Homo sapiens: one gene and its partners. The protein of the gene in region 2 purifies or fractionates together with the protein of the main gene of each other region. This does not show direct contact. Each region holds a gene or a part of one and is shown on either strand. Other genes may lie near its edges. The genes, in order: IREB2, GAGE1 and MCM8.

Region 1 (3,649 bases), on a different chromosome or scaffold from region 2:
AATGTAATTCCAGGAGACAGTTCTTCAGGAAATGTTAAAGAAAATGTTTCTCTACCGGAGAGGCCCAAGGAATCTGCATTTTCTCCTGGAAGGAACTGAAGTGGAGCTATGCCAATTCCAATCAAATGATCTTTGTGTATTTTTTCATAACTTTCGGCCAAAACAGCTTTCACACCCTGTAATAAATGTGCATTTTATTCCCTCTAATCACTTCTGAAAGTTATTTATTGAGCATTTAAAGGGGGCAAAAATCTACTTTGGCCTTTCTCTAAATACTTTTAGTCTAATATCTCATACTGAATCAATATTTTATCAAAGTATTTACAGAACCTTCTTACAGATTATTTTTCTGAATTTTTATGGAGCTCTCTAAATTATTCGGATCCCTTTCTGCTGCTCTAGGGTTAAGTACTGCCGCTGCCTACCACATCATAAGAGCTCTATAAATGGGCCGGCTCCCTTGACCCCAAAGTAGGGCTCAGAAGGATTTCTATTTAAACATGCCAGATCTAACATATGTTTTCAACACTCTTGAAATGCCACTAAAATAAAGGAATAAAGAAGGTATATAGGGCCAGGCGCAGTGGCTTATATGCTTATAATCCCAGTACTTTGGAGGCTGAGGCAGAAGGATTATTTGAGGCCGGGAGTTTGAGACCAGCCTGGGCAATATAGTGAGACCCTGTCTCTACAAAACATAAAAATAAAAAATACAATAAAAAGTAACAAGAATAGGCTGGATGCAGTGGCTCACACCTGTAATGCCAGCACTATGGGAGGCCGAGGTGGGCAGATCACTTGAAGCCAGGAGTTTGAGACCAGCCTGGCCAACATGGTGAAACTCCATCTCTATCTAAAAACAGAAAAATTAGCTGGACATGGTGGTGCACACCTGTAATCTCAGCTACTATGGAGGCTGAGGCAGGAGAGTCACTTGAGGTTGTAAGTGGAGGTTGCAGGGAGCTGAGATCATGCCACTGCATTCCAGCCTGGACGACAGAGTGAGACCCTGTCTCCAAAAAATACAAATAAGTAACAACAATAATGAAGAGGGTATAAGCCCACAGCAACAAAGGGAATAGGATGAGAGAATTCTATGAATATTTAGAAAACAGAGATAGGTAAGTGATTTAGAAGACAATGCTGAAACCGCAGAATGATAAAATGAAATTAGAGAGTGATACCAGTAAGGTCTGAGTTAATGTGCAACACAAGACCCAGGAAAAGGATTGAGATTCAGAGGCATGAGGTTCTCAGAATACTCGTGGACACAGGTTACAAGGCCATACAAAGCAGTAAGATCCAGCTCAATCCCCACTCCACAAGAGTAGAGGTTTATTCTCTGGAAAAAATGAGCCAAAGGCTCTAGACTTGTGTTTTTCAACTTTTTTCTCCACTGTCTACCTAAGGAGTCTTTTAAGACTTTTTTCCCCCAAATTGTGTCTTCCTGTTCACCTCCCTTCTCTCCAAAATTTTAGTACCACAAAGATGCTGTGTATCTTTTAATGTACTCTTATCTGTACTTTATGTGCAAAAAGTAGAATTTTTTTTACCACCTGAGGACCAATTTTTGTTCTTTTTTACTCATTTTTTACAAATTTTTACTCATTTTTTGTTATAGCAGAAATAAGGAAGAGAATACATTCTCTAAACTGACAAACACTGGGCACAGGGGCTTGAGAATACCAGATTGAAAACAGGGGACTAAGTAGATGTCTACATACTGAACGAGTCTCTTTCCTTCAAGAAACTGAATGGCCTCAGAGAAAATACAGATAATGACATATAGAATCGCTTAATGAAAAAGGTAGCTTATCACCCAGTCACCTATAGTAAGGCCCAGTAACTGACACAACCCAGCCCCCATCCATGGCTTGTAATCAGTTTTTTAATGTCTAACAAATGGAGGGCCAAGCATCACCTGCCATATAAGGAAAGCTTCCAACATCAAAAACAAACACTAAAACAATTTCCAGGATAAAAATAACCTATACCTATCATTAATACTCATAATAATACTTATAATTAGTATCTTAGAAGGATGAGATTTTGTTTTATTCCCACAGCCCCTCAGAGTATTTACATTTTAAAGGAGATATTAAAGATTAAAATAAGAATGAGGCCTGCATGGTATCTGTGTTTCAGCCAGCCTTTTTACAGCTACAATTGTAAAGAGAAGCATCTGTGAGTATGAAATGGCAAAAAGCACATGTCACATGACTATTCCCCCCCAGCAGATGGCCTATTTGCTCTGCAACAAGGAAACAGTCTCAGGAGAAATGTCCTCCTGGCAGACAGCCAGGCACCACAATCTCCTATTTAGGGGGAAAAAAGGTGCAACTTGGCCTACTACTTCTGAGTCTTTTACCCACTGATGGGGCAAATCGGAGAAAATTAAATCAAAAGGAGGCAAGTAAAATTAACAGTGGGGGCCGGGCACATGGCTCAAGCCTGTAATCCCAGCACCCTGGGAGGCCACAGCGGGAGGATCACTTGAGCCCAGGAGTTCAAGATCAGCCTGAGCAAAATAGAGAGATCCGATCTCTACAAACAATACAAAAATTGGCCAGGTGTGGTAACTCATGGCGTAGTCCCAGCTACTTGGGAGGCTGAGGCAGGAGAACTGATTGCACCTGGGAGGTCATGGCTGCAGCAAGCAGTGATTGCGCCACTGCACTCCAGTCTGGGTGACAAGGACATGGTCTCAAAACTAAAAAACCAAAAAAAATGATCAATAGGTATAAATAATTATAAAACAATAGTTTAAAACAGAATTTCCTTTCCCTCTATTATACTGACTTCTTCACATAAGACTGATGTAGGTTTTACCAAACTCAGAGTATTAAAATGATACTAACTAGATGAGTACAAAATATTACCAAAGATCACTGAAATAAACAAACAAACAAAACCCTCTATACCTATAAGGTTCAAATAACTATAAAAAATCCAGATAAACTTTGACAGGATGTTACTGACAAAAGGGAACAGTTAAAACTCTTTGAAGCTTAAGATGATAAATTTTAAGATTCAATACCAGTAAATACGGTCCTTTGGCAGCCCAGTCTCTGGAGTTTCCTGAACCATATTTCTTTCCTGCTAAAATAATCAGTGGGATACCTTCTTTCTGGTACAGCTCTGCAGCCTCAAATACATCTAGCTGTAGATTAAAACAAACACAAAATTTTTTAATACAAATTTTGATCCAGTTATAAATTGTCTAAATACTTTGTTTGCATTCTCACCGTCTGTCCTGATGGAAAATGAATTGTTTTAGGAGCTGGTTTTCCAATAAACTTATTAAAAAGCTTGATATTTGCAAAAGTGCCTCTTGTCATTACAGCATCATTACCTCTTCGAGCTCCGTAAGAGTTGAATTCACGAGGGGTAAGGCTACAAGAAAGTAATGAAAGTCAGTTTTCATTACATGTGGAAAATAATCACATACTATTGAGCTGTAAGACCTATTGAAAAATTTTTTTATCACAGAAAATTTCAAACACAAAAGAAAACAAAACCATGAATGTCCATGCGCCTATCACCAAGCTATAACTTAACAGATGCTCCGTTTCTTCTACAGTCAACCCCATTAGATTATTTTGAAGCAAAACTGAGATAATTTTAACAGCATACTTTTCAGTACATTTCA
Region 2 (4,399 bases):
CTGAGAAATCTGAAGTCTACCACGTGGGTAGGATTTCAGTTACAATTACAATGTCAGTTTCTGAAGGATTGATTAGCTGGATGGATTTGAGGACTATGGAAAATCTTACAGTCACGACACCCATTACCTATTGGGGTAAAGAGAAACTTCACTTTGTTCAAATAAAGTTATATTTAGGTCCGAAGGTCCTAAAGGTAATATTCCATAAATGAACCCCGTGAAGAACAAAGCACCAAATATAACATTGTTTGTGAATCACAGAAAATATACTGTCCCCCGCACTGAGAATAAGGGAGTGGGCGGACAGCAATTAATGGGCATTGTTGTCAGTCAGATTCTAGGAACTTTTAACAGTGCATCCCTGGAATAATCCATGACCTCCGTTACATAAATGCTTCCTTTCAAAACATTTTATCTCGGAGAAATTATTTCCATCTCACGTTAATCTCAGGATAATTCCGTTTTTGCTTTTCTAACCATAAAAGGATTTAATCACCTCCTAAAGGCCGCTGAGAAAAATCACTAAACCAGCTACCTGTATGGCAGTATCCTCATTTATCCAGCTTTTATCAAACGTACCATATAAAAATATCAATCAAAGGAAACGGGGGCCAACATTCAGCGACTCGGTTTTTGGAGCTGCTCCTGCTCCTCTGAACTGGGTCTATTCTTGGGTCAGTACTAAGCTACCTTACAGTAAAGCCTTTTGAGTTTTAAGCATTTTCAGCAAAATCACTTCCTTCTTTACAGCAACATACATGATAGGAAGACACAAACCTTGGAACACAGTACAAATGTTGTATTCACCAGTCAAGGGTTCTTGGATAACACACAATCCTGGCACCTCCATTCTCTCATTCATAAAGTCGAGATCTTTTACCATAGTGAGGGATTTGCCTAAGCTAAGCTGCGAACTACATAGCCTCCTCGCTTTTCCAGTCAATTTCAGGCATTCTTTCCATTGTTTTCTTTCCTCCTCTTCCTCCTATGTGACAATGCCTAACACACACACACACACGTGCACACACACACACACGAACACACACACACGCACACACCAGCAGACGTTCTTCTTCCCTTTCCCTCACCTTGACCTGCAGATGCTCCCTCATCCTCTCCCTCCTGAGCAGCTGCAGGATCCTGACGTTGAGTTGCTGGTTCCCCTTCTTCAGGTGTTGCTGGTTCCACTTCATCACTGAACTGCTCGGGCTGGGGAATACGTGTGGGTGTGCAAATAAAAAATAAGTTTCGTTATTGATACAAAATTTTACATATATACACAGAATACATAGCTATTTCTGGTCCTAACTAAGCCTAAAGACATTTCTCCAACTCTATGCTCTATGCCCAATAAGGTTACTCCACCCACAGGGAGGTTACTGTGAGAAAAGTGACGCACGAGGACTTTGGGGGCTATTATACTCTGTGTTGGAATACATGTGTACAATCTGTCATTAACAAACAAAGCCGGAGAAAGAAGTCATGGGCAAAAGCTGAAGAACACGAGAGGAAAAAAAAAATCCTCCAGAATCAATGTTTCCTTCATGAGATGCCATCCTCATTTTTTATGAGCAGGAAAGACCTTTATCAGCATTTCCACACTAATGCAACGACGCTATCACAAAAATTAATTTCTACTAATAGAAAACATCGAATTAACGTTTAAGCACTCACCCGCATAGGCCCAATCATTTCAGGAGGCTGTACATAGCGCCTTGGTCTAGGCCAATAATAGGTCGATCTTCCTCGCCAACTCATATTTCACACTGAAAACAGACAACCGTGATTGGGAACGTGCGCTCCAGAGGGCTGCTATATTCGATCACTTCCATGGATAAATGTTAACTTGCCGTTTTACTTTTGAAAATACTCTCAAAATAAGTCCCAGAGTTAAGCATACGTGTGTACGCTGTCTGAGTGCCTACAAAGCCACTTCTGCTGGCCAGGCTGGCAGAGCAATCATCTTAAGGCGTGTGGCAAAAGGCAGAGGACATTTTTTTCTAAATTTCTTTTGGACACGCGGTCTCGCTGTGTTGCTCAGGCTGGAGTGCAGCGGCGTGATCACAGCTCACTGCAGCCTCGACCTCCCGCTCAAGGGATCCTCCCACCTCAGTGTCCCCAGTAACTGGGAATACGTAGGCGAGCGCCACTGCGCCCCGCAGACAGAGGTCATTTCTGATGAGGTTTAGTTTCACAAGTGCACTCCCCACGAAAACCCTAGTGAATCACAATTCTCGTGATTGCTGCTTTGGGCACACTCCCACTTCCTAGAGCCATTCACCCCCCCTCACAACAAGTTTGGTTGGACCGCACTGCCTCGCCCACTCCTTCCCACTGTTTTCGGACCTTCCATGGCGGAGGTGAGACCTTGCAGTGCTTCTCACTCGGGCGCTCCGCACTCCACACCGCTGAGGGGGCGCTCGCCAGGCCGCAGCCTTCCCAGGTGCCAGGCCCCTTCTTCACCGCCCGCCTCGCCCCCGCCGGGGGCCCCATTCAGGGAATCTGCCCTGTGTCGTCGGGGATCCCGGCACCTCGGGACTTCCATCCCCCCAACAGCACTCACCCCGTCTTCACCTGAGCCCCTGACCGCCTCCCCTCCACGGCCCACCTTCCTCCCCGTCCAGGCCCCTTCACGACCACGAAGCCGCCGGTGGCCTCGCAGCCTGTGAAGGGAAGGAGGACGACCTCGTGGCCCTTCTCCCTCGGAGGCCACAGACCAGGAAGCGGGACCCGCCTGACCCACCCGAGGCCCTCTCCACCCTCACTCACACTTCAGCCCCCGGGATGACTGGCCTGCACACCTACCAGATGAATCTCAGTAGAGGAAAAAGAGTCCGGACGGCAGGAACCACACAGCACTGCCTCACAGCTCCCTGGCGTTCTTCACGTGGGCGAAGGGGCCGGGCAGAAGACGCCCAGTGAACATGCGCACTGAGGCGGGAGCCCAGGGAGCATGCGCGGCTGTGGGCTGGGGAGGGCTGCCGTTCCCAGCGCCACGCCCCAAACCCTCCATGCCCATCCTCATTGAGGATAAGGGAATCCCACCTCCCTCTGCTGTTTCCTATGCCTCTGGGACTCAAGTAGTGCTCCCCTCAAAACTCACCCCATCTTCAACTGAACCCCACCCCCAACCCAGGGCCCTCTCTTGCCCCGGACCCACCATGGGGACAAGGACCACTGTGACTGGCTGGGAAGACAGGTAAACCACCTGCGAAAACAGAAATAGCAACCTATCCCAAAAGGAAATTGTTCAATGTGAACAAGTCAGAGAAAGAGACTGAAAGAAAAATGAATAGAATCGCTAGGACCCGTAAGAAAATGCTAAAACGATATCTATCATTTGTAGCATCAGAATCGCAGAGGGTGAAGTGACAGTATTAGGGAAACAGGACAGCCAGAGTGACACCACGTGAAAATATACTCCGTCTTGAAAGCAGCAAGATACATAGTCCTACCAGTCACAACCCATGGTCCTAAGATGTTTGGAGTTGAGAAAACAGATGAAAGGTACCTCCAAGGACATGCTCCCACAGCAGCGGAAAGTGCACGGTTCCCAACACCCATTAACAATATATGCTTTCAACAGAATTATGCTTTCATGGACTTACACACTGGTAAGTCAAGGACAGTTTTCTTTAAATCAATAGAATGATAAAAGTCATCATGCTCTTAGCCCACCCGCACAAAGGCACAGATTAACTTTAGTCTTTATATAGATAAGACCCCTATATAAGAAAAACCAGACCAGGCCAAGGCTCACGCCTGTAATCCTAGTATTTTGGGAGGCTGAGCTGGCCAGATCACCTGAGCTCAGGACTTCGAGACCAGCCTAAGCAACATCAGAAAATCTCATCACTACAAAAAACAAACAAAAAACCATCGAAAAATTAGCTGGGCATGGTGGCATGTACCTATACTCACAGCTCCTCAGGAGGCTGAGGTGGGAGGCGCGCTTGAGCCCAGGAGGTCAAGGCTGCAGCGAGCTCTGATAACACCACCGCACTCCAGCCTCGGTGACAGAGTGAGACGCTGTCTCAAGTTTTAATAATCGAACCTAAAAACGTACAAATTTATCAATCGAATTCACTATATTAACACATGAATGGGAAAAAACGCTGTGGTAATCGAAATAGATGCACTGTTTGATGAAAATCAACATATATTCAAATGAATACTCTCAGCAAATTTGGAACAGAATGCAATGACTCACTCTGATAAAGTCCGTCTACAAAAAAAGGAGAGTGAATAGGATGGTGAAATGTTGAAATTTTTCGGTTTCTCATCAGGGATAAGACAAGGATGTCCACTGTCACCATTGTAACGGGTGGGTCTGCGCAATGCCATAAAATCAGAAAAGGAAATAAAACTCTTTACAATGGCAACGACGGGCCCGCCACGG
Region 3 (3,649 bases), on a different chromosome or scaffold from region 2:
GCCCAGCCGAAGAACGGCTTCTTAAGCAGGGCATAAAATATACAAATTAGGGAGGAAAAGACAACAATTTGATCATGTCAAAATGTAAAACTGTACAACAAAAAAACCCACAAAGTTAAAAGACAAACCAAAGACTGGGAGAAAATATCTAATGTATATAATCAACAATAATTAGTATCTAGAATGTATAAAGAACTCCTATCAATAAACTAATAGAACCAGGCACAGTGGCTGGCACCTGTAGTCCCAACTACGTGGGAAGCTGAGATGGGAAGATCACCTGAGCCCAGGAGTTCAAGGTTGTAATGAGCTATGATCATGTCACTACACTCCAGCCTGGGCAACAGAATGAGACCCCATCTCTAAAAAACAAAATTAAAGAATAAACCAATAAACAGGAAAATGAACATTAGATATAAATAGAAAATTCGATAAAGAAACTGAATGGCCAGTAAAGATATGAAAAGATGCTCAACCACAACAGAAATCAGAAAAATTCACATTATAAATGCAGTATTATTTATACCTAACAAACTGTCAAAAATGTACAAGTCTAACAATACCAAGTGTTAATGAAAAGACAGAGAAATGGTAACTACTTAACACTACCAGCAAAGATTTAAGTTGGGAACAATACTCTGGAAAGTAATTTGGTAACATCTAATACAGTTAAAAATAAGTACAGCCGGCCAATCCCAGCACTCTGGGAGGCTGAGGCAGGCGGATCACCAGGTCAGGAGTTTGAGAACAGCCTGGCCAACATAGTGAAACCTTGTCTCTACCAAAAATACAAAAATTAGCCAGGCATGGTGGCGCGTGCCTGTAGTCCCAGCTACTCGAGAGGCTGAGGCAGGAGAACTGCTTGAACCCAGGAGGCGGAGGTTGCGGTGAGCCAAGATCGCGCCACTGCACTCCAGCCCGGGCAACAGAGCGAGACTCCGTCTCAAAAAAAAAAAAAAAAAAAAAAAAAAGTACAGCCTACAACTTAGTATTCCTCTGCTAAGGAGACATGTACAAGAATGTTCTCTGCAGTATCATTTGTTCTTATAAAAAACTGGAAAGAGCACAATTGTCTACCTCCAGGAAAATGGATAAATTGTGGCTATTTATTTAAAGCAACACTCCACAATAGTAAAAATGAAAGAATTTGATATGTATTAAAATAGGTAGAACTACAAAATAACCAAATAAAAAAACAGCTGCGTGTTACATTCAGGATACCATTTACGTAAACACAATACAAAAAACTAACTCTACACATGTAGTCAAGAATAAAAATGTAAACTTGAAGAATACATGCCAATTTCAGCATAGTGGTTGCATCTAGGGAGCAAATAAAGGGAATAAAACTGAGAACAGAAAGACTTCAACTTTATATAACCATATTTTTGTTACAAATTAAGCTAAAATAATATTAATATTTGCCAAATCATAGAGTAGATAAATGTTAATTACATTATTCTCTGCACTTTTCTATAGTTTTAAAATCCAGTTTAATAAAGGCTAATAAAGATTTAAAAAACCCATCACTTCTAAATAGTAGAAGAAATAAAGGGGAAAAAAAACTTGGTGTGTATACCTAGAAGTCAACAGAAATATGAATGGAAGGGATGCATATTATAATAACTTCAGGATAATGATCATCCCTGGGAATGGTATAGGTAAAAAACAGACACTAATTGTGCCAGTAATGCTTTATATCATTAAAAAATGTGTCCGGAGCTGAAAAATGTAAATTCGGGGTGATGAGTAGTGGAATGTTTTATTTATTTCTGTATTTTTCTTACCCTGAAGTATTTCATAATATAAAAGCAGAAAATTGAAAATAAAAAATAAAAATAAGCTCTGTGTTCAGAAACACTGGGAAATGTTTTCTGTATTCTGATTTGCCTTCTTTACCAAGATAAATAAAGAAGCAGTTAAAGAACGTATTACCTTTGTGGGAAGACTGTATTTTCCATCTGGAAGAGGAAAGCTCTGAATTTCTCCACATGCAGCACAAAGAAAAGCCATCTTGGTGCAAAGAGGCTTTATATTACTGACACGAACCACTGTCCCTCTTAGAGCAATGTATTTTCCATAGTAATTTGCTCTGACATTCTTGAGCTGTGTCAAAGGCTCATAGTTGTACACCCTAAAGACAAAACAGGAAGTAATGAACAGAAAATTGATGTTTTTTATATTTTCACAAGTTCCTTTTAGGAGCAACTATGGAATTCTCAAATCAAATCATCCCTTCGATATATCAGAAATATCACAAGAATTAAACCATTCTTGTTGTGTTTTGTTTTCTTGAGATGGAGTCTCGCTCTGTTGCCAGGCTGGAGTGCAGGGGTGCCATCTTGGCTCACTGCAACCACTGCCTCCCGGGTTCAAGTGATTCTCCTGCCTCAGTCTCCCGAGTAGCTGGGACTACAGGTGTGTGCCACCACACCCAGCTAATTTTTGTATTTTTAGTAGAGACAGGGTTTCACCATGTTGGCCAGGATGGTCTCGATCGCTTGACCTCGTGATCCGCCTGCCTCGGACTCCCAGTGCTGGGATTACAGGCATGAGCCACCGTGCCCAGCCAAACCATTCTTAACAAGAAACAACACTAAATCTTCCTTTTTCTTCTTGTCTCACAGGCTGTTCTCAAGGAAAAAAGAAAAAAGAAATTTAAGGAAAAAAATAATGCCAAAAGGAAAATCTACAGATTCAAAAACCTTTGGGTTTCTAAGTTCTTTTTAAAGAACTGCTAGGAAATTTTCTTCTATAAATTCTGGAAAAGAAAAACAAAATGCTGATGATTACCTTATAATGAATTCTTCTAATGAATTTAAAATCTTAAAGATGAATTCAAGAAAAACAAAATAATTTCATTATTCCCTTGTATCTAACAAAAACCTAATAATTTAACAAAGAACACTTAGTGTATTACAGACTGAGTATATCCCTTATCCAAAATGCCTGGGACCAGAAGTATTTTGGAATTTTTGGACTTCCAAATATTTGCAATATTACTAGTTGAGTATCTCTAATTCAAAAATCTGAAGTGCTCCAATGAACATTTCCTTTCAGTGTCGTGTCAGGGCTCAAAGTTTTGAATTTTGGAGCATTTCAGATTTCAGATTTTCAGATTAGGGATACTCAACCCATACATGGATTATTAAACTTACACAGCAGGGTCTTGATAAGTTCACATCCAAAACCAATGTTTACAAAAATCTGCAGGTTAGGAAATCAACATTTTCTTCCTTATTTAGGAAGTATCTGTCATGATGTCTTTGAATAATTTTCAATGAGTTTATTTCAGTGTGATGATCAATGAGATGGCAAGGAACTCATGTCCTTTTTACTGATTTCCTCATTTTTATAAAATGAGCGTTTTCATTCTTAAATGGCCTTCAATGTCCCATTCTAAGTAATACTTTAATACATCAAATTCCTCACCTTGCATGAATATGTGGCACATTTACCATTGTTTCTCCATCATTAGACAATCCTTCCTGGGCTTGTAACTCAGCTGCATGCCTTTCAAGGTCCTTAGTTAACACCTAAACAGGACAGACATTTACTCTGAAGTTGGAAAACAAAACATCCTCTTTATACAGAACTCTATTTTTATAGAGAATATAAAGTTTATGGACAGAAACAGAATAAAAACAGA

Evidence for each region.
Region 1: the proteins of GAGE1 (region 2) and IREB2 purify together in Homo sapiens (affinity purification with mass spectrometry; one large-scale study listed by BioGRID and IntAct). This does not show direct contact.
Region 3: the proteins of GAGE1 (region 2) and MCM8 purify together in Homo sapiens (affinity purification with mass spectrometry; one large-scale study listed by BioGRID and IntAct). This does not show direct contact.

Annotation. Positions count from the first base shown.
Region 1 is NC_000015.10:78,493,653-78,497,301, reverse strand, and holds part of IREB2 (iron-responsive element-binding protein 2), read right to left. Parts: intron 3,394-3,649; coding exon 3,246-3,393; intron 3,161-3,245; coding exon 3,038-3,160; intron 177-3,037; coding exon 1-176. UniProt on the Homo sapiens protein: RNA-binding protein that binds to iron-responsive elements (IRES), which are stem-loop structures found in the 5'-UTR of ferritin, and delta aminolevulinic acid synthase mRNAs, and in the 3'-UTR of transferrin receptor mRNA.
Region 2 is NC_000023.11:49,597,534-49,601,932, reverse strand, and holds the start of GAGE1 (G antigen 1), read right to left. Parts: upstream 2,914-4,399; 5' UTR 2,806-2,913; intron 1,767-2,805; 5' UTR 1,759-1,766; coding exon 1,675-1,758; intron 1,210-1,674; coding exon 1,089-1,209; intron 1-1,088. UniProt on the Homo sapiens protein: Antigen, recognized on melanoma by autologous cytolytic T-lymphocytes.
Region 3 is NC_000020.11:5,957,013-5,960,661, reverse strand, and holds part of MCM8 (DNA helicase MCM8), read right to left. Parts: intron 3,537-3,649; coding exon 3,433-3,536; intron 2,135-3,432; coding exon 1,936-2,134; intron 1-1,935. UniProt on the Homo sapiens protein: Component of the MCM8-MCM9 complex, a complex involved in the repair of double-stranded DNA breaks (DBSs) and DNA interstrand cross-links (ICLs) by homologous recombination (HR).